Regions from separate parts of the Homo sapiens genome. Here region 2 is linked to region 1. Evidence: fine-mapped QTL for protein levels in blood plasma. Region 1 holds a variant in brackets. A gene starts in the other region. All regions are shown on their reverse strands.

The links. PIP is the chance, under the fine-mapping model, that this variant and not a neighbour inherited with it causes the effect. The UK Biobank Pharma Proteomics Project read protein levels with antibody pairs (Olink). The fine-mapping took linkage between variants from a reference panel, not from the people measured, so its PIPs are less certain.
Region 2: it holds the start of BCHE, and the variant in region 1 is fine-mapped to the plasma level of the BCHE protein (UK Biobank, PIP above 0.99).

Annotation. Positions count from the first base shown.
Region 1 is chr2:203,118,011-203,128,159 of GRCh38, reverse strand. It overlaps NBEAL1 (neurobeachin like 1), which reads right to left. Exons shown (of 56, transcript NM_001378026.1): 19 at 5,817-5,906; 20 at 2,640-2,808; 21 at 2,067-2,200; 22 at 1,444-1,603; 23 at 1,234-1,336; 24 at 223-379. Among named protein-coding and RNA genes, the nearest start is that of NBEAL1, 110 kb to the right of the region's middle. The variant G/A (reference allele first, on the strand shown) is at 5,329.
Region 2 is chr3:165,832,541-165,842,689 of GRCh38, reverse strand. It overlaps BCHE (butyrylcholinesterase), which reads left to right and starts at 5,267. Exons shown (of 4, transcript NM_000055.4): 1 at 5,267-5,376. RefSeq lists an enhancer at 5,155-5,449.

The DNA of each region.
Region 1 (10,149 bases):
TGAGTCGAGATCGTGCCACTGCACTCCAGCCTGGGTGACAGAGCGAGACTCCATCTCAAAAAAAAAAAAGATAAAATTTACTTCTTAAGTGCATAATATTGAATGTGACACTACACATATTTTACTCTCAAAATATTTAACTAGACACAAACATACGTTCAGAAGATGATGTAGCAACTCAAATGTTAAAAAGGAAAAGTAGATGTATCTTAGGCATAATACCTGTTCTTCTTCATTAGTAGCAGCTATGTACCCCATAATACTTTGTATCTCTTCATGAGATCCACCTTTGCACAGAAAATATTTAATTAGTCCATACAAAGAAGTCCTTATTGTTCGAATATCATCTAGAGATAGTTCATTATATTTACAACCATTCCTGAAAGACAAAACAAAGTATAAGAATTGAAATTTTAATTTTTACATTTCCTTTTTTCTGAGATGGAGTCTCGCTCTGTTGCCCAGGCTGGAGTGCAGTGGTACAATCTTGGCTCACTGCAACCTCTGCCTTCTGGGTTCAAGCGATTCTCCTGCCTCAGCCTCCTGAGTAGCTGGGATTACAGGCACACGCCACCACGCCCAGCTAATTTTTGTATTTTTAGTAGAGATGGGGTTTCACCATGTTGGCCAGGCTGGTCTCAAACTCCTGACCTCACGATCTGCCCACCTCAGCCTCCCGAAGTGCTGGGATTACAGGCGTGAGCCACCGCGCCCAGCCTAATTTTTACATTTCTATATTTTCTACATAAAAGAATTCATAGTGTTAAAAAAATATTTCCATGTAATTCTGAGATTCATAGTAACTTTGGCTTGCTTTTCTTTTTAAGGAAAATCTTCTGAGTTAAGAGTTTCAGTGAATAAAATAGCTTATGTGAATACAACACCCACTGCATAGCAGACATACTTTAAGTGTTTTACATTATTAACTAATTAACTTAATCCTCAAAACAACCAAAGGAGGTAACAGTTTTCTTATCTCCTTTCAAAAATGAAGAAACCCAAGCACAGAGAAGTTGAGTAATTTGCCTACAGTTGCACAATTAATGAAAGCCAGATTCAAACTCAGTGTATGCGATCCACTGTTCATCATTTTAACCTCCACTGTATCCTACCTCTCTCCAGTTAAAACATACTAGAATCGCTGGTAAAGAGAAAGTCTACAGTCTACACATTCCAATCAAGTAGCAGACAGAAAATAATATATCAAACTGAGAAAGAACAAGGGCATCATACCCATAATAAATCCTAAGTGTATCTAGGAGAAACTGCACACCATACTTCTTTCGGAAAACTCTCCTGCTGTCTTTAATGATGGTTGAAAGATACTGTATGTGACCTAAAATAAAAAGTTCAATGGTAAGTAATTCAGCTAAAATAAAGTCAATAGGTAGTTATAAATTTCTAAAACAACTATAAAATGTTTATCTGAAAGCCTGCTCTCACCGATTCGAAAGGGAAAATCTCCACGGTTCCAAATACGAAAGTCAAAGAGTAAATATTGATACATTTGTTGCAGGAGCTGCATATTTTTCTCTAATGATACTTGTTCAATTAGTAACTGAACTGCCATCAACACATTAACATCCATCAAGGTGCTTGGCACCTGAAACCAAACAGAAGAGGGTTTCATATAGTTCAGTTTAAATAACTGTCATTAAGTTATAATTTTAAATCATTAATCAGAACATCTACTAAGTATAAAAATAGAAAAACCCACATTAGAAAAATAAAAACTTAAGTATTGGTTTTTCTGATATTAGACCAGAATATATTCTCCTAGTGTCATATTCCTAAAATAGTCTTATATTTCTCAACATCCCAAATATCAAAGCTATCAAACAAGGTTGTATACATCAAAGATTATACACTATTACATAAAATAAGTATTTCTTGTATAAGATGATTCCATACAAGTTTTTAAAAGCTGCCTGTGAACAAATTATATCCATTAATATAATTCAAGTTGTAATAATCTTTAAAAATATATTTATTAGGAAGAAAAAATCCCAACATCAACTGCAAATCACAATTATTAGCTACATCAACACAATGTTAGACTGGCTCACCTTCTGAAGTAAAGCACCAAGAGTTGCAACTCCATGGGAGTGAATAAGATTGCCCTGGTTGATAGGATGTCTCTGAATAAAATGTTTCACAATTAAGATAAATGTTGCAACTAGGTTTCTCTCTAGTCTTGACTCTGTAGAATCAGGAACATATTAATTATCATAATTTCTCTAATCACTTTTATATCACATTTTCTATATCTTAATGCACACTGTTACACAAAGTAGAAATCTGGTTCAGCAGTCAGCTTCCAACGCTCTATTGTACAATAGAATCAGAAAAAGCAGCAACTATAATATTGTATATTTATGTGCACATATTTTCTCTACCACAAATTTAACAATGTGGTCATATTTCCACTAAGAGTATAAACTAAGGATACTGGAGATTAATCTGTCGTTTTTTGATGAAAGTATTATAAACTTTCTGAATGATATTAGTAAAAGTAGAAACAACTGCTACAGCTACAAATGGTTAAGTTTCTTCCTAATGACAGTAAAACATTTTCATTTATTTCTCAATTAATTCTCAAATTTCTCAATGACTATTTTGTGTTAATTTCATCTTAATACCTGAGGCCTTTGTGGAAGTCCATACGAGCCAATCTCCTTCAACAGGTGTTACTGATTCAGGAACTGTGCTTTCATTCTTTTCTTCAGGAATCTGTCCTTCACTAAAGTGGCTGATTTGTTCCAATAAAGGAAAGAGTACATTTAACCCACCTATGCAGTTTATGATATCCTAAAGGGAAAATTATAATGTTTAAATCTTATAAAAGGAGGACAATTTTGTCATTTAATATCTTCACATGTATGAAGTTATAATCTGCTAGATAAACCTTTGAGCAATGTACAGGATAACCTAAGCTGAAGGAATTTTTGTGTAGGAAGATGCTTTACAGGGCAGCCTCAAGGGTCACCATAATCAAAACTCAAGAGAGATCAGGCCAGACCATTTTTACTCCATCTTCATTTTCCAAATTTTAGGGATTTCGAACATAGGCAAATGAAACATAGCCCCATAAGTGGACTTTATAATGTAACTCCAACAATGGAAAAACAACTGTCACTAGGCAATTAGGCATAATAAACAAGAGAATAAACAATGAAAAAAAATGCATTTGGTGGTAGAAATATGACTGACTCCTCGACTTTTAGTTAACAAAAAGGTAGAGAGGGTATTTCAGGCAAAGTTCAAAGTTTTGGATATTTTGGGTAGCTTAATAAAATATTTTCTATATCTTTTGATAAGTTACTAATATCACTGGCTTCAGTTTCTTCATCTGTAAAATGAGGATAATAGTAACACCCACTTCATAAAGTATTGCAAGGATTAAGTAAGCTAATATATAAAAAGTGCAGTCTCTGACATACAGTCGATACCATACAAGGTTTGCTCTTATTATTAATTATTAAAGTGTTCTGAATTGCCACGTGGACATAACTTAAGTCTTCAAACAACCTCTTCACATTCTTTGCTTGTTTTCTTAGAAATAAATTTTATTGTGTATATTTGAGGTTTACAAAATAATGTTGTAGGATACACATAGATAATAAAATGGTTACTATAGTGAAGCAGATTAACATTTCTATCATTTCACATAGTTACTTTGTGACAAGAGCAGCTAAAATCTACTTATTTAACAAAACTCCCTAATAAAATGTAATTTTATTAACTATAGTCCTCATGTTTTACATTAGATCTCTGGACTTGTTCATCCTACATATCTGCTACTTTGTTGGGTTTTTCTTGTTTGTTTTTGAGACAGGGTTTCGCTCTGTCACTCAGCTGGAGTGCACTGGCCTGATCACGGCTCACTGCAGTCTCGACCTTCCAGGCTCAAGTGATCCTCTCACCTCAGCCTCCCAAGTAGCTGAGACTACAGGCATGTGCCACCACACTCAGCTAACGTGTGTATTTTTTGTACAAAGTTTTGCCATGTTGCCCAGGCTGGTCTCAAACTCTTGAGCTCAAGCAATTTGCCCGCCATGGCCTCCCAAAGTACTGGGATTACAGGTGTGAACCACTGTGCCTGGCCTCATATCTTCTACTTTGTTTTGACTGTTTGTCATACCAGTTTTGAAGAGCTCTTTGTGTAAATAAGTAAATTAACTTTTTGGAAGGCAAATATTATTTTACCAGTTGTCATTTAACTTTTTTGGTCTTTGATTTGGCTACAGTATAAAAATACGCCTTTCTCTTGATAATCTGTTGCTTTTTGATTTCCACATTAGCCAAAAGTCTAACTAGTTAATAATCCACATAGCTGTAACTCAGGCCACAAAAAAACGGCTTTGATTTTCAGGTATGTATGGTACATATAAACAGATTTCTATATATAAAATACCACATGGAATCAGCTTTGTAAAACCAGTCTTACAAGTAAAGCAAAAGTTAACTTATGAAGTGTCATTCATGTCATAAATCCTACTATGGTAACAGATAAAAAAAAGTGTTCTGGCCGGGCATGGTGGCTCACGCCTGTAATCCCAGCACTTTGAGAGGCCAAGGTGGGCGGATCAACTGAGGTCAGGAGTCCGAGACCAGTCTGTCCAACATGGTGAGACCCTGTCTCTACTAAAAAATACAAAAATCAGCTGGGTGTGGTGGCAGGTGCCTATAATCCCAGCTACTTGGAAGGCTGAGGCAGGAGAATCGCTTGAACCTGGGAGGCAGAGGTTGTAGTGAGCCGAGATCCACTGCACTCCAGCCAGGGCGACAGCAAAACTCTGCCTCAAAAAAAAAAAAAAGAAAAAAGAAAAGAAAAGAAAAAGAACAAGTGTTCTTATACCAAAATTAAGGAGAAAAATCCTTTATATATCATGAATAACATGAAATTAACACTAATTGATAGATTAATTTCTACATAGGCAAAATTATCTTAATGATTTCTTTTCACTGAAATAATAAACGTATTTGGTTGGTGTTAACTGATTAGAAAAGTTTTTTTTTTTTTCCTGATTTACCAGCAAGTCTTCTTATAATTATCTTTTATTTCCCTGATTTACCGGCAAGCCCTCTTATAATTATCTTTTATATTTCTTTTATTTAACTTAGGTTATAACTTCTATTTAAAATATCATTTAAGGAAACACTATATTTAAGAATTAAGCCTTTCTCACCCTAAACAACCTTTACTAATTTAATCACTCAGTCAACACTTATTTGTTGCATAACCCTGTACCAGGAACTGATTAAAAAAAAGAAAAAAGCAGTGACCCTTCCTTCAAAGTTCTTTTGGACTACTAGAGCATTAACCAA[G/A]CAGTTACTATTTGCCATGGTAAGTGAAATAATAAAGTGCTAGGGATACCCATAAGAGCAGTTTGGTCTTGGAAAGTAAGTAGAAGCCTCTAGATGGAAGCAAAGTTCCAGCTGTGACATAAATATGAGGCCAATGAAAAAGGAAAATAAGATTTGAGAACCCATACAGACATGGCAAAAACATTCAAACTCCACACAGACAGTTGCCCCTGCCAGGAATCAATTTTTTTCTCACTGACTTTATAATGAACGACATTATCCAAAGACCTGCTGTAGCTTACAAAGGTAACTATACTTCAAACCAAAGTCATTCAACTATGTTAGTCATTTAACTTTGCATTTGTTTACCCTTCAAATTGTATGTTTGCATAACCCTTTAACTGAGACCTATTATTTAGATCAATCTGGCAGTGCTTTAAAAACAAAATCCTTAATAAGAGTATCAGTAAATTATGTAAGATGTTGCCCAACATTTACTATTAATTTACCTTAATGTCCCAGTTCACTACTTTGTTTCCTGTTAATCTTCCATGCAAACAATTAGTAGATAAATCAAGACAGATTGAATTTTTGCAGGCCTAAGAATAAAAGAAAAATATGGCAAACAACCAATTAGAACAAAACATAAATTTAACCACATATAGAACATTTCACCATAATACAAAAAGGAATATAGGATAGTCAAAGATAAGATGCCCATAATATGAATTTTAGTATTGCTGTTCTGTTTTAAAAGAAAGAATCAGGGCCGGGCGTGGTGGCTCATGCCTGTAATCCCAGCACTTTGGGAGGCCGAGGCAGGTGGATCACCTGAGGTTAGGAGTTCGAAACCAGCCTGGCCAACATGGTAAAACCCCATCTCTACTAAAAATATAAAAACTAGCCGGGTGTGGTGGTGGGCACCTGTAATCCCAGCTACTCGGGAGGCTGAGGGAGGAGAATTGCTTGAACCCAGGAGACGGAGGTTGCAGTGAGCCGACACGGTGCCAATGCACTCCAGCCTCAGTGACAGAGTGAGACTCTGTCTCAAAAAATAAATAAAAATAAAAAAGAAAGAATCAGGAATTAGATTCTAAAGCACCCACTTAGAAAAGTAGGTCACTGCTACTTGTCATCTGACAGATGAGCTATAGGCAGAACTTGTTCGCCAGCCACAGTGATGTTTTTTTTTTTTTTTTGGAGACAGAGTCTCACTCTTGTCACCCAGGCTAGAGTGCAGTGGTGTGATCTTGGCTCACTGCAACCTCTGCCTCCCAGATTCGAGCAATTCTCCTGCCTCAGCCTCCCAAGTAGCTGAGATTACAGTGGTGCGCCACCACATCTGGCTTAATTTGTATTTTTAGTAGAGATGGGGTTTCACCATGTTGGCCAGGCTGGTCTCGAACTCCTGACCTCAAGGGATCCACCCACCTCGGCCTCCCAAAGTGCTGGGATTACAGGCATGAGCCACTGCACCCGGCCTCGCCAGTCATAGTTTTTAAATTTTTCTCTTTTAAACAAATACATGAAAACAGATTTTTTGCTTTAAAAAAATTCAATGTTTTATTTCCATTAGCACTTCCCTAGGCACAATTTCAAGATACACATAAAACGTGTGATTAAAATGAGAGATAAACCATAGAACAAAAAAAAAATCATAATATAAAAATACAATTACAGGCATAAGATACTATTTTCCCTCATGTTGTTGCCAGACAATTCTGGCTGCATTCAGAGTAAGAGCTTAGTCTGTAACTTTAGAAACAGTGTTATTTGCTAACCTCCATTCGTAAAGGCATGTTAACTTCATATTCAATCCGAATTTTCAGGTAATGCAGCATCCTTGAATCTAATCTAATCCCCATTCCAAAAGAAAGTAAACCTACAAATTTTAGCGCACATGATGTAGTTACTGCTTTCCTCTTAAACAATTGAGAAAAATTGCTTTAATCAAACAAATACTTAAACGTTATCCGTCTCCGAGACAGACACGTCTTTCTCTAGTTACTACTTTAGTCTGTAACTAAAAACTGTGTATCTATGACCTGTTTTAACAGAATAATCTCCTAATGGTATGACACTCTCTAGAATCCATTCCTCCAATCCAACTTTCACACTGCAGCTTAAGACCATTTCTAAAATGCGAATCCGATAATATTACTCTTCTGCTAAAAATTCTATCCATTGCCTATTATCTACTCTGACATAGGAGGTTTGCTCTAATGTGACCTTGCTCTCTAGTCTCATCTCCTCTTGCTCAGTGTCCTATACCCAAACACATGTAGAACCCAGTTTTACAGTCTATGCCTTTTTAGGTGATATTTACCATGCATCCCTGCTCAACCTTGTCTTTTAAAACACAAATGATACCATCTTCTTTATGATTTTCTAGCTTCCTGGAACAACAAACCACTCCTCATTTGTACCCTCACTATTAATTTGTACATTATTCCGTACATTATTCCAACAAAGAAATATTGTATATTAGTTAAGGATATAAATTAAACAGGCTGGGTTCTAACTCCAGGATTCAATGGAATTATGAGTCTAAGCAAGTTACTTATCTTACTGAGCTTCAGAAAACTAAAGCTTAGAAAAGATAACCAATAATACCATATACCTCTCAGGGCTTTTGTGAAGATTAAGTGAAACAATACACGTGAAATACTTAGCATAGTGCTTAACATATTGTTAACACCCCATAAATGGTAGCTAAAAAGAAAAATAAATGCTCATAAAGTTATGTTGAACTTATTTTTTAAAAAATTTATTTTGCTTTAGATTGTAAGCTTCTTACAGACAGAGACTTTTATTTATTTATCTTTGTATTGTAAGGGTATAGCATAATTCTTGGACTAAGAAGACATTCAATAAGTTTTAAGCAAATGAATGATTAAATACCTCCTACAATTGAGTACAAAAAAAACTGTTGACTATTTTAAAAATCCTCTGGAGCAGCTTTTCCCAAACTAGCATTTGTTAACAACTAAGTTATAATAACAAAATATGTTCTATGCTCAAATAGCTGGTGAAACAGTAGGACAAAACAAAAGTAAACTGGTTCCTTTATAGCAGAATTTTAAAAATGTATCACTAACCTCCAAGAGGGATATAAAGAATGCAACTGGGCCGGGCACGGTGGCTCACACCTGTAATCCCAGCACTTTGGGAGGCCAAGGCGGGCAGATCACTTGAGGTCAGGAGTTCGAGACTAGCCTGACCATCATGGTGAAACCTCGTCTGTACTAAAAATACAAAAATTAGCCAGGTGTGGTGGCGCATGCCTGTAATCCCAGCTACTCAGGAGGCTGAGGCAGGAGAATCGCTTGAACCCAGGAAGCGGAGGTTGCAGTGAGCCAAGATTGCGCCACTGCACTCCAGCCTGGCAACAGAGCGAGACTCCGTCTCAAAAAAAAAAAAAAAAAAAAGCAACAGGCCGTATGCAGTGGCTCACGCCTGTAATCTTAGCACTTTGCAAGGCCTAAGTGGGTGGATCACTTGAGCCCAGGAGTTCAACACCAGCCTAGGCAACATAGTGAGACCTTGTCTCTACAAAAAATCAAAAAATGGGGTGGGAGTATTGCTTGAGCCCAGGAGGATGAGGCTACAATGAGCCATGATTGCACCACTGCACGGCCACCTAGGTAATGGGAGTGATACCCTGTCTTTAAAAAAAAAAAAAATAGAATCCAACAGTCCCCCAAATTTATTTAACTATAGAGTCCCTGTCTCATGACATAGCACCATTTTGCAGAAACATTCCTTCAGTAATCTGTTTTATTGTATTTATCAATAGTCATATTAAGTTTCTTGGGGAAAAACAAGACAATAGCTATTTTTTTGGTAGTATAGAATTTTTTACTTTCAATGGTAAAAAAAAAAAAAAATCCAACTTTAATGTTAACAAATTCAAAGTTACTTTGTAAAAAGAATACGATGACCATAATGTCAAAAAGACCAGTCAGGCCCAGTGCGGTGGCTCATGCCTGTAATCCCAGCACTGTGGGAGGCCAAGGCGGGCGGATCACTTGAGGTCAAGAGTTCAAGACCAGCCTGGCCAACATGGTGAAACCCCATCTACCAAAATACAAAAATTAGCCAGGTGTGGTGGTACGTGCCTGTAATCCCAGCTACTTGGGAGGCTGAGGCAAGAGAATCGCTTGAACCTGGGAGGCAGAGGCTGCAGTGAGCCAAGATTGCGCCACTGCACTCCAGCCTGGGTGAGAGAGCGAGACTCCATCTCAAAAAAAAAAAAAAAGTTGGCTGTCACACATCCAGAACTTGCCACTAAATATACTGTTTGGATTATATGCAATTATTTCTTAGCTATCTATGCTATATAGTGGAGAATGAAAATAGGTGTAAGATACAATTCCTGCCAAGAAATAACATAAGATGTATTAAACAAACATGTATCTTTGGGAAAAAGAAGTTATACAAAGCAAACAAAAATATAAGACTCAAGAGACCTTATAACCAATGCAATGCATAAACTTTGGATCCAGGATTCATTTCTAAAAGGCTATACAAATATTTTTGGAAAAATTTGAACACAGAGTATATATTAGATGAATTATGGGCCATTTTCTTAGGTAGGTAGATGATTATGTAGAAATATACAGGGATGAAGTGTCTTGATAGTTATGTCAATTCGTTTTCACAAATGATTTGAGACAAAAGTCAGCAAGTACAGTAAAACATTAGTAATTGGTTAATTTAGGTGAAGAGTATATAGGATATCACTTTACCATTCTTTTGACTCCTCTCTAGATTTGAAATGTATCACAGCAAAAAGAAGGGAGAAAATAAAACTAATAAGCAAATTTTATTAGGTCAGATACA
Region 2 (10,149 bases), not on the chromosome of region 1:
ATGAAATGACAAAAGATATGTAATAATAAATTGCGTTTTTGAGCATGAGAACAACATACACTTTCCTAGACAGCTGGTGAGAGTATAAATTGCTGATGTTTTGTGAAGGTAGTTGGTTGATATGTCTTAGCCATAAAAGCATAGATAACCTTTTGAAGAATTCTGATTTAAGCAATTATTCCATAGAAAATAAGAAATATTTAAAAATATTTATAATTACTAAGTCCATTTTTATGTTACTATTTCCAGGAAAAATTTAAAATAGCCTTCATATACAATAAAAGCAAGTTAGATAAATTATATTGTACTTATACAAATAATTAATACATAGGCATATAAATGAAGTTAAAAAAATATTCGATAGCATTATTTTGGAAAAACTTAAGATAGGTTATATGAAAGTAGGCTACCAAAGACTATGTATGATGTATTTCCAAATTAGCTTGAAGCAAAAGGTACAGTTGTGCATGAGAATAAGCAATTAAAAAAAAGAAAAAGCATATATATATATATGGTAGCACAAAAATGTCCTTAGTATCCAAGCTCCAGGACTTTGCCTCTTAGTGTGTAGTTTGTGAACTCCCTCTATCAGCTTCACAGAGGACAGTAGTATAACGCTGTCCTCAAGTCTACTGAAACCAAAGCCCAGGGATGTGGCCTAGAAATCTGGATGTTTAAATAGCACTTTGATGAATTTGATAATGTGTTACTTTGCAATTTTTCTGAGAGTGAGACTCCAAAGATAGTCAAGGGTTTGGGAAGAGTAAATTTAAGCCAATTCAGTAAATTAGGTGATAAACAAAGAAGCTTGCTGTTTTTCTCTCTTTTTTTATGTTTTAAAACAATGAGTTTCTCCTTTTTTGCTCAAGCCCTGAACAATTTAGTTCAGAATTTGTTTTCTTACTTTGATTCTGCTGGCTTTGCCAATTCCATGAAAATCCACTTGGCACCACATTTCCTTAGAAGCTCTTGCTTTTTCTTGATTTTCTTTCTGTTCTTAGAGTCTAATATTCTAGTGTCTCACCAAATTGTTGTTGTCTCTTTCCAAAACTCCTTTAACCAAACTATCTGTATCTTCATGTAAAAGGCACCACAGACCTCCCATCACTCACTCTCCCTTAACCCCAAAATATCTATGTGTTATCCCTTACAGATGTCACTTCCTGCAAGGCCTTCCATATTAGTTGCTACAACATCACTAAAGAATTTTATTACCTGTGGCTCTGGACCTACTTCTAATATCTCTGGAGATATCCACCTTCAAACACCTGCCACATCCAGCTATGAGGGTCTAGTACCTGGGCTCCAGAGACATGTTCAGGTTAGTTCTGATTATAAGAACATTTCTCTTTTTTGCCAGAATTGTTGGAAAGTTATCTCTATTCAACAGTCTGTGTAGGATTTCAGAAGATTGAATATACATATAAATATATATACATACACACATGTATATATACACACACACATATATGTATATGTACTTTGTCCATGTCGTATTTGGTTATTCCAATTCTGGGAAAATAAATTAAGAAAATAATTAAAAGATGCACTCAAATATCGATATACAAAATGCCTATTGTAATAATACATAAAAAAAGTCAGAAGCTAACCTCGGTATCTGTATGATTTGGAGCAAGTTACTTAAACTCTTTGTGGCTATATTTTCTCAAATGTAAAATAAGGTTAATAATAGTGCTTATTTTAAAGGTAGTCATGAGTTTTAAATGAATTCATGTATTCAAAGTGGATAGAATAGTGCTTTCAAATAATATTTATTACCTAAAATTATTATTATCATCATATAAGTAACAAGAGATACAATGAACCATAATATGCCCATATGATAATATATCACACAGTAATCAAAATATTTTAATAGGAAATTAATATCATAAGATAAAAAGCAAGAAGAATGATGATAAGCCATTTGACTACCACTATATTTATCTATGTAACTATAACCACATACACATATTTTAAAAAATTGATTGGAATATACAAAATGGTCTTTTCATTCTCTGTGATATGTAAAATGTAGAAATATACTTTTCTGGGCTGGATGCAGTAGCTCACACCTATAATCCCAGCACTTTGGGAGGCCGAGGTTGGTGGAGCACCTGAGGTCAGGAATTCGAGACCAGCCTGGCCAACATAGTGAAATCCTGTGTCTACTAAAAATACAAAAATTAGCCAGATTTGGTGGTGGGTGCCTGTAATCCCAGCTACTCAGGAGGCTGAGGCAGGAAAATTGCTTGAACCCAGGAGGCAGAGGTTGCAGTGAGCCGAGATCCTGCCACTGCACTCCAGCCTGGGCGACAGAGTGAGACTCCATCTCAGGAAAAAAAAAAAAAAATCTATCTATCTATCTATCTATCTATCTATCTATCTATCTATCTATCTATCTATACTTATATATACTTTTCTTTGTTATCCATATTCATTTCAGAGAATGCAGTGCTATTGTAAAAAAAATGAATAAAATTAATATAAGTTTAGAGCACTTTTTTGGCATCAGTATGCCTAAGGAAAACTAATGTATAATACAGGATTAATGTTTTTCACACCATCTCAAATCTTACTGAATGCTGCTATCTAGAAAACAGTGGTAACTGAGTTACAATGGGACCTTAAAAGCAAAAAACCACTGTGACTGGCTAACTGAAAGTGATCATAGAGCCAAAACCATAATGATTGTCCTGCCCAAGCTTCAGCATATATGGTTGCAAAATGTGCGCAGTGTTAATGCCGTGTCAAGTGTCTTGTGGTATTTCATCAGTGTCGCTTACAAGGCATACTCAACATTTAACAGCAGGATCATTAACCATCCATGCTGTGATGTAATGGAATAGTGCTTCCCTACTAACCCTGAAACAAGCTCACTGTGTGTGACCTACATCCTTCCGCTGGATGAGTGTGAGAAAATGATGACACCACAGAAGCAAAGCAGCTGCTGTAAGTTGAGCCACAAGGAAGAAACTCTCAAGACAGGAAGAATAAATGCTTTAGAGGTGCACTAAAATAATGAATGAACTAATGTGGCATAGCTGTGAAATCATGCGAGGAAAAGAACTACAGGGACAGTAACAGAAGGTGGTTCTTTGAAGTAAAGACATTGAGAAGAAGAAAAATTGCCAACTTGTGTAATCAGTTGATGTTGCTAGTTAGCCAGTTTAAACATGCGTTAAAGATAAAGATCTGCTTGAAACCAATTATTTTATTGTTTGGCTTCCTGTTTAAAGATGAAAATGAAATATGTGTATATATGTGACATATTTTACCTAGCAGTGAGTAGATGCAGGAAGCATGTAAAATGCTTTGCTGAATTCACTAACGTCACAAAATATTCCTTAATAATTGCCGCGTTTGATAGGCTGACCTTATGCTAGCACAGGAAACAATGCAGTGGACTTGGGTTGGAGAGAAGAATTTTGACATTTGGATTTTTAAAAATCATGTATATTGAACCCATGAACTCTCATGTGGAACATCAGATTTACTATATTTTAAACAGAAATGCCATCACTATAAAAACCATTGCAAATTTGTCAATATACTTCCATTTAAAAAGCCTTTTCCTGCTTTTATTGATTTATTGATTAATTTTTTTTTGAGACAGGATCTCACTCTGTCACCCACGATGAAGTGCAGTGGCACAATCGTGGCTTGCAGCCTCGACCTCCTAGGCTCAGGTGATACTCTTACCTCAGCTACCTCCCAAGTAACTGGGAATGTAGGCTTGCACCACCATGTCTGACCCATTTTCTTGCAGAAATTGAGTTTTGCTATGTTGTCCAGACTTGTCTTGAACTCCCAGACTGAAGCAATCCGCCCACTTAGGCCTCCTAAAATGTTGGGATTACAGTCATGAACCACTGTGCTCCACCTCCTTTTTCTCCTTTTCAGATAGATTATGTATTCTGTACCTTTTGTGTAACTAACTTGTTATTACATAAACTATATTCTAAATACATTATAAATTATTGTGATCATGATATTTATCATTGAATTAACACTGCCTAAGTAGCAATTTTCACAGAAAAGATAATTTTAAAAGACCAAAATGGTTATTCTCTTGGAAGCAGTTGACATAAAATAACAGAATAATACAGATTAAAATTCTGTTTTCCAACAGCTACTAGTGGTAAGAAATATAGTAAGCTTCTGATTTGTAGAAACCTTAGCTTTCTCATCTGATGAGGTGGTTAATAATATTAACTCTCATATTTGCTGAAATAATATAAAATATTTAATATAAATTGTCAATTATAATGACTGGCATAAGGTAGAATTACAACAAATGCTAATTATATTTGCTTGTTTGAAAATTTAACACTCTATTAAAAGGCAAAAAAGTGCTCACCTGCAAATATTAATACATGCCTTCTGTTTAGTCCATAGAAAGCCCACAAGTAAGAGATTCAAAAGTGAAAGCTATCACTTACAGAAGATTAAGAATATATTGCATTGAGAAGATAGGGATTAAGGAGTTTATCAAAGGTTTTTTAAAAAATTATTTTCCTGAACATCATTTCAAGAAAGATAAGCGCCAAAGACATAAATATATTCTCCAGAGCATGTGCACTGCAAGTTGACAAATGTGTCTCTTTTATAGAGTTTGGTGAAGGTTATTCATTTTATTTTTCCTGTCTTGACCAGAAAATTGTGGCTTCTCATCATGTATGACTGCCTGCAGGGTCTTCTGAATAGGAAATTACCAATGCTGAAATTTGTATGACTTAAATAAGTGTTGAAGTGTGGGGGTTGAAAGGAGATACATATCAGAGACATCCATTCAGTTAATAGAACTAAGTTTTTGATTTGCATAGCTTATATCTAGAGCATTGTGTTTCTTATTTTCTATATTACTATCTTCTCTAACTATATAATTAGCACAGATTGAAGCTATAATGGATTTCAATAATAGCACTACTTTAGAATGATGTATACGTCTTTAAATCTTAAGACAAGCATAGGAAATATGTATATTCTTAAAAAAAGGAAAATTTTTTTAAAGTTTAGAGTTAAAAGAAACATGCATTTTCTGTTACATTTCAGATTATTTTAGTTAAAGAATCTTCTATGCTTTTTTTCTTCATTCTTAGAAGACTACCTGCAATTGTAAAGCATGAATCCTGTAATACTTCTGTAAATGAATCACTATTGCATTTATACCATTAGCCTCTGAACAGATTTCAAGTTGCTGCTGCCAACTCTCGCGAGCTTTGTCAGTAACAGTTGATTGTTACATTCAGTAACACTGAATGTCAGTGCAGTCCAATTTACAGGCTGGAGCAGCAGCTGCATCCTGCATTTCCCCGAAGTATTACATGATTTTCACTCCTTGCAAACTTTGCCATCTTTGTTGCAGAGAATCGGGTAAGTTGCTCTGAATTTACACCTTCGTGTAGAGATCCAAGTTACTGTAAAGCTCATTCTGTGGGATGAGAGTGATCTCTTCATGTGTTTGTTGTGTCCCTTTGGTGCTCTGTGGGGAACAGTTACTGAAGCTTGCAAATGGGACAGAGGAAGTGAGCCAGCAGGCACATGCATCAAATCTTCCTATTATTCAGGGAACGCAGACTTTGTTTATTTAACTGCTGAGAAAATAATGAATTTATTCAACTCTGTATAAAGGACCATAGCACGTGTGGAATCACTGTGATATATATTCTTAGTGAGTTTCCTAAGAAAAAACATTTCATACTGGCTTACCCTTAAATGCATTGTTTATTGAATCTCTCTGTAAAAGTAATCTTTGATTAGTCTTCCTTTTTTTTTCTTTTTAAATGGGATAAAGTTAGTAGTTAACTTACTTTTTCCTGAACAAAATACTTTTCTCAATCAACATTTTGTCACCTAAAACTTTAACAGTAACAACTGGCAAATGAGAGGTCTGTTTATTTTATGTAAATAAAAACAAAACCTGTTTTCTAATTTGATTTACAGTGATTTATGAGCGTGTCCCCTTTGCCCTTTGTGTTCACTTTTTATATGTTTGTTTAAATTGTAGCAAAATATTTTACATTTGCTATTATTTTACTATTATAGAAATAGTAAGCAAATGTACTTTCTGCTCATCCTATAATCTTGTAAAACTATTATTTTGATAACATCAGTTCCACTTTAACCAGGGAATTAAATATTAAGGATTATAAAATCTATGAATGACTAAAAGTAAACTGAAATGTGATTTCATTGTTTATGATTTCTATTTATTATATATTTTTATTTTATGAGTATGTCTTCTACATTTTTATGAATATATTTCATGATAATAAACTCAATTAGGAGCTCCTGTCACTAGTCTGTGTAATGCCTTCCTTAATATAAACTATCTCATAGTTACAATAAATACAATGACAGTTTACTTATATAAGTAGTTACTTTGTTTAAGGATAAGCGTGAGCTTTTAAAGTGTGACTTTAACATTTGAATAAAAATCTTCAGAATTTTCTCTGGATATAAAATAAAGTAGTCTTTTGGATGCCAAATAAATTTCTAATTGGGTTATCAAAGTTCTGTTTTGTTCTCCTAATTTTTTGTTGTTGTTGTTTGTTTGTATTGTCCTAGTTTTTTAATTGTAAAAATATGTTTGGGATGTATTCCATATTTCATTTTTATAAAACATAAGCTACTAATAGCTAAACAAGTCACATCTTATCTATAAATTTGGTTCCTTCTTCGAGTCATTTCTTGATAAGTATAATATATATTTACATTGAATATTATCTTCATTTCGATGGTTTCTTGCCAGCATCTGCTCATTCTTACCAAAATTAGACGGTCCCAGATGTTAAGAGAATTGTAATTGAATAGATAGCAACCTAAGAGGAGATTTAATTTTCAGAGAAGACTCAAGAAATCTCTCTAATAAATGTTCAAATTATTCACACAATGAAGTTTGCAAATGTTCTTCCTAATTGAGGACAGATAAAACATCTTAAGTTTCTTATATCTAATGTAGTGTCTTCTATATGTATACATGCCTAAAGCATAGCTGAAGAATCCCTGAAAGACAGTGATGTAGTCTATTTATAATCAGACTTCCTCAATTCCCCACTTCACTTAGTCTGCAACAAAACAAGCTTTTTAAGTTTGATATAAAGACGTCGTTGTTCCAATTTCTTCAAATACATTTAAGAGAGCTTGTTCTAGATCATATTAATATTATCTAGATGGCTCTTTCTCTACCATTTTAAGAGGGTTTATTTCCAAGTAGAAATAAATATTTATTTAATTGTAACTTTTTAAAAGATAGGGAAATTATACACAGGGAAAATATTTTGAATATTTGCTTGAACATCTTTTAAAAATTCTTGGCTTGTCCCTTATTTTGAAAATCTGGTTGATATTCAAGTATCCCAAAAAATAGCTCTTTATACAAATTATTTTATCACACTCACATCTTATAGTATAACATTTAGTATTTTTTGTTAAAATCAGCTAGGGAATATTAATAGTACTTTCAAAATTGAATTAAAAATACAAAAAAAGATTTGTCACCTTTTTTATTTGAAAGTTATTGTTATAACAGTTTAGCATTTTCAAAAATTGCCAGTAAATTTTCTTAATTCCAAACAAAAACTCAGTTCCTCAAAAACTCAAATTCCTCAAAAACTCAATTCCTCAAAAACTAGAATGGTCTGAATTCCAAACAAAAACTCCTGTCTTTATTTCCAATATTAAATACTATTTTGATAAGCAAATTGATCTAAATTCAGATACACAGCTGTATTTGTGAAAATGTGCCCCATTTTTATGATAATGTTTATGCTACTATGTTCTCTCAGAATCATGTGAGACAGTATCCAATTGCACCAGAATTTATTAAAAGAAAAACGATCAAACCTGCACGTTGTGCACATGTACCCTAAAACTTAAAGTATAATAATAATAAAATTAAAAAAAAGAAAAACGATAATGTTTTGTTGAATATCCTAATCATTAATAAAAATTTTGAGATATAGACTCAATATTTTTATTCTATTTTCATTTATTTCTCTTTCGATTGCTCAATTACATGATAAACATATCAAAATTTTTAAAGTCTTTTAATGGCAAAACTACAGAGTAGCATGTTAGAATAGATAATACCAGATTATAAAAAGGGCAAAGTGATGCTTATTTAAAAAATAAAGTACTGCAATTAAATATAAAAACATTAGCCTACAATACACTAACAGTATATGAACATCTGCATATTTTTATATTAAAGTACACATTAAATAATATGTCATATGACACTCTGCAACAATACATATGAGTTAGCATTATATTGTCATTTTTGCAATGAATGCATGCTTACAAGAATTGCTTTGATTGTTACCAATTACATTATTTGCAAGTTGATAACTCAGATATCATTATCGAAAAATTAAAGATTTTAATTCATACCATATTATTATATAACAAGACCTACTCAGCATAAAATATAAATATCAACATATAATAAATTTTGTATTAAATCAAGTTAAGTGACATGGGAAGATATTACAACCATTTAGATGTTATAGCAACTGTTTAACATAAACAATGAAACATCACATTTCATAATTACACAAAACACAAATACAGTTTTGTAGCAACTATAGTACTTGCTTTGCAATAATATAAACTGTTTGTAGAACAAGTTTGAAAACTATCAGAGACCAAAATTTATTTCAATTTGGTGTTTGGTTTCTAAAGACAAACTAATATTCAAATAAAATCAAGGAAAAAATAGATGGCTTTTGCATTAGACTTAGAAGAACATTGACTGAGCTAGGCAAGAGGGAGAATGGGTACAACCAGGGATGATGCAATTAATTTATTAAATTGCAGCTTAGAACGAACCGCCCAATCAGCTTTGCACCTTATTCACTTTTTCTTCCCAGAGGATGTTTTCAAAACAGAAAATAAAAAAAATCATACTAGCACTTTGTTTTTCTCCAGATGCTCTCCTGCATTTATTAAAGAGAAAAGGATTAGCGGTTATCAGAAAGAAAAAAGAACTGAAGCAGTAGAGTGCCTCTAAAACTTTGATTATGTCTGAAATGTTATTAGTGTCAGGTAACAGGAAACTTTAAGTCATTGTTATATTTTACTTATTTATTTACTGTGATTTATGATACAGTCATACAATACATAATGATGCTTCAATCAATAATGGTGGTCTTATACAATTATAATATAGTATTTTCACTGTACCTTTTCTCTGTTTACATACACATACAGTTACCATTTTCTAACAATTGCCTACAGTATTCAGGAACATGTTATACAGATTTGTAGCCTAGATGCAACAGCCTATACCATATAGCCTAAAGGTGTGGTAGGCTATGGCATCTAAGTTTGCGTGAGTACACTTATAATGTGTGCACAATGATTAGATCGCCTAACAATGCATTTCTTAGAATGTATCCCTGTCAATAAATGGCATATGACAAGGATACATTATATAATAGTACCTAAATTATATATAATAGTACCTAAATATCATGAATGTAGAAATGCTGCTAAAAATATATTTTAATTATGTTTTATTGATCTTAGCACACATCTAATTGTACCAAACAGAACTGAAAAAATAATAATCTTGTGGCTTGATTTTTTTAAAACCTTATTATTATAGCAGTCATTTTATATGTAAATATATATGCATATACATATGAATATTGTTAGAATTAGATATAGAAATAGATATATCCATTAAGTATCAAGCCCTGAACCAAATGCTCCAGACCATGGATTAATAAATTGAGATATTTATTGGGATAAAAAATACTTGTAGGTCACTAGATATCCTATGACCATTGGTGAATTAGGCTGATTTGAAATATGATACCCTACGTCTGGGACATAGGCATTAGAATAGTTATTTATTCTCTTTCTTTGAGAAAATCTAAATTAAATAAACAAAGACAAAACTAATACAAATGCTTAGTATTTGTAGGATTCGTTTATTGGTTGTGTAGGTTGGATTTCAGCAACCTAATTACAGCATGAGAAAAAATAAAGGGAAGGCTTTGTACATTAATGGATCTTTGTTATTATTATGTGAATGAGAATCAGTATTTGTAATTGACTATTTTAGTTATATAAACACATTAGTTCTTCTATGGCCGGGCGCGGTGGCTCATGCCTGTAATCCCAGCTCTTTGGGAGGCCGAG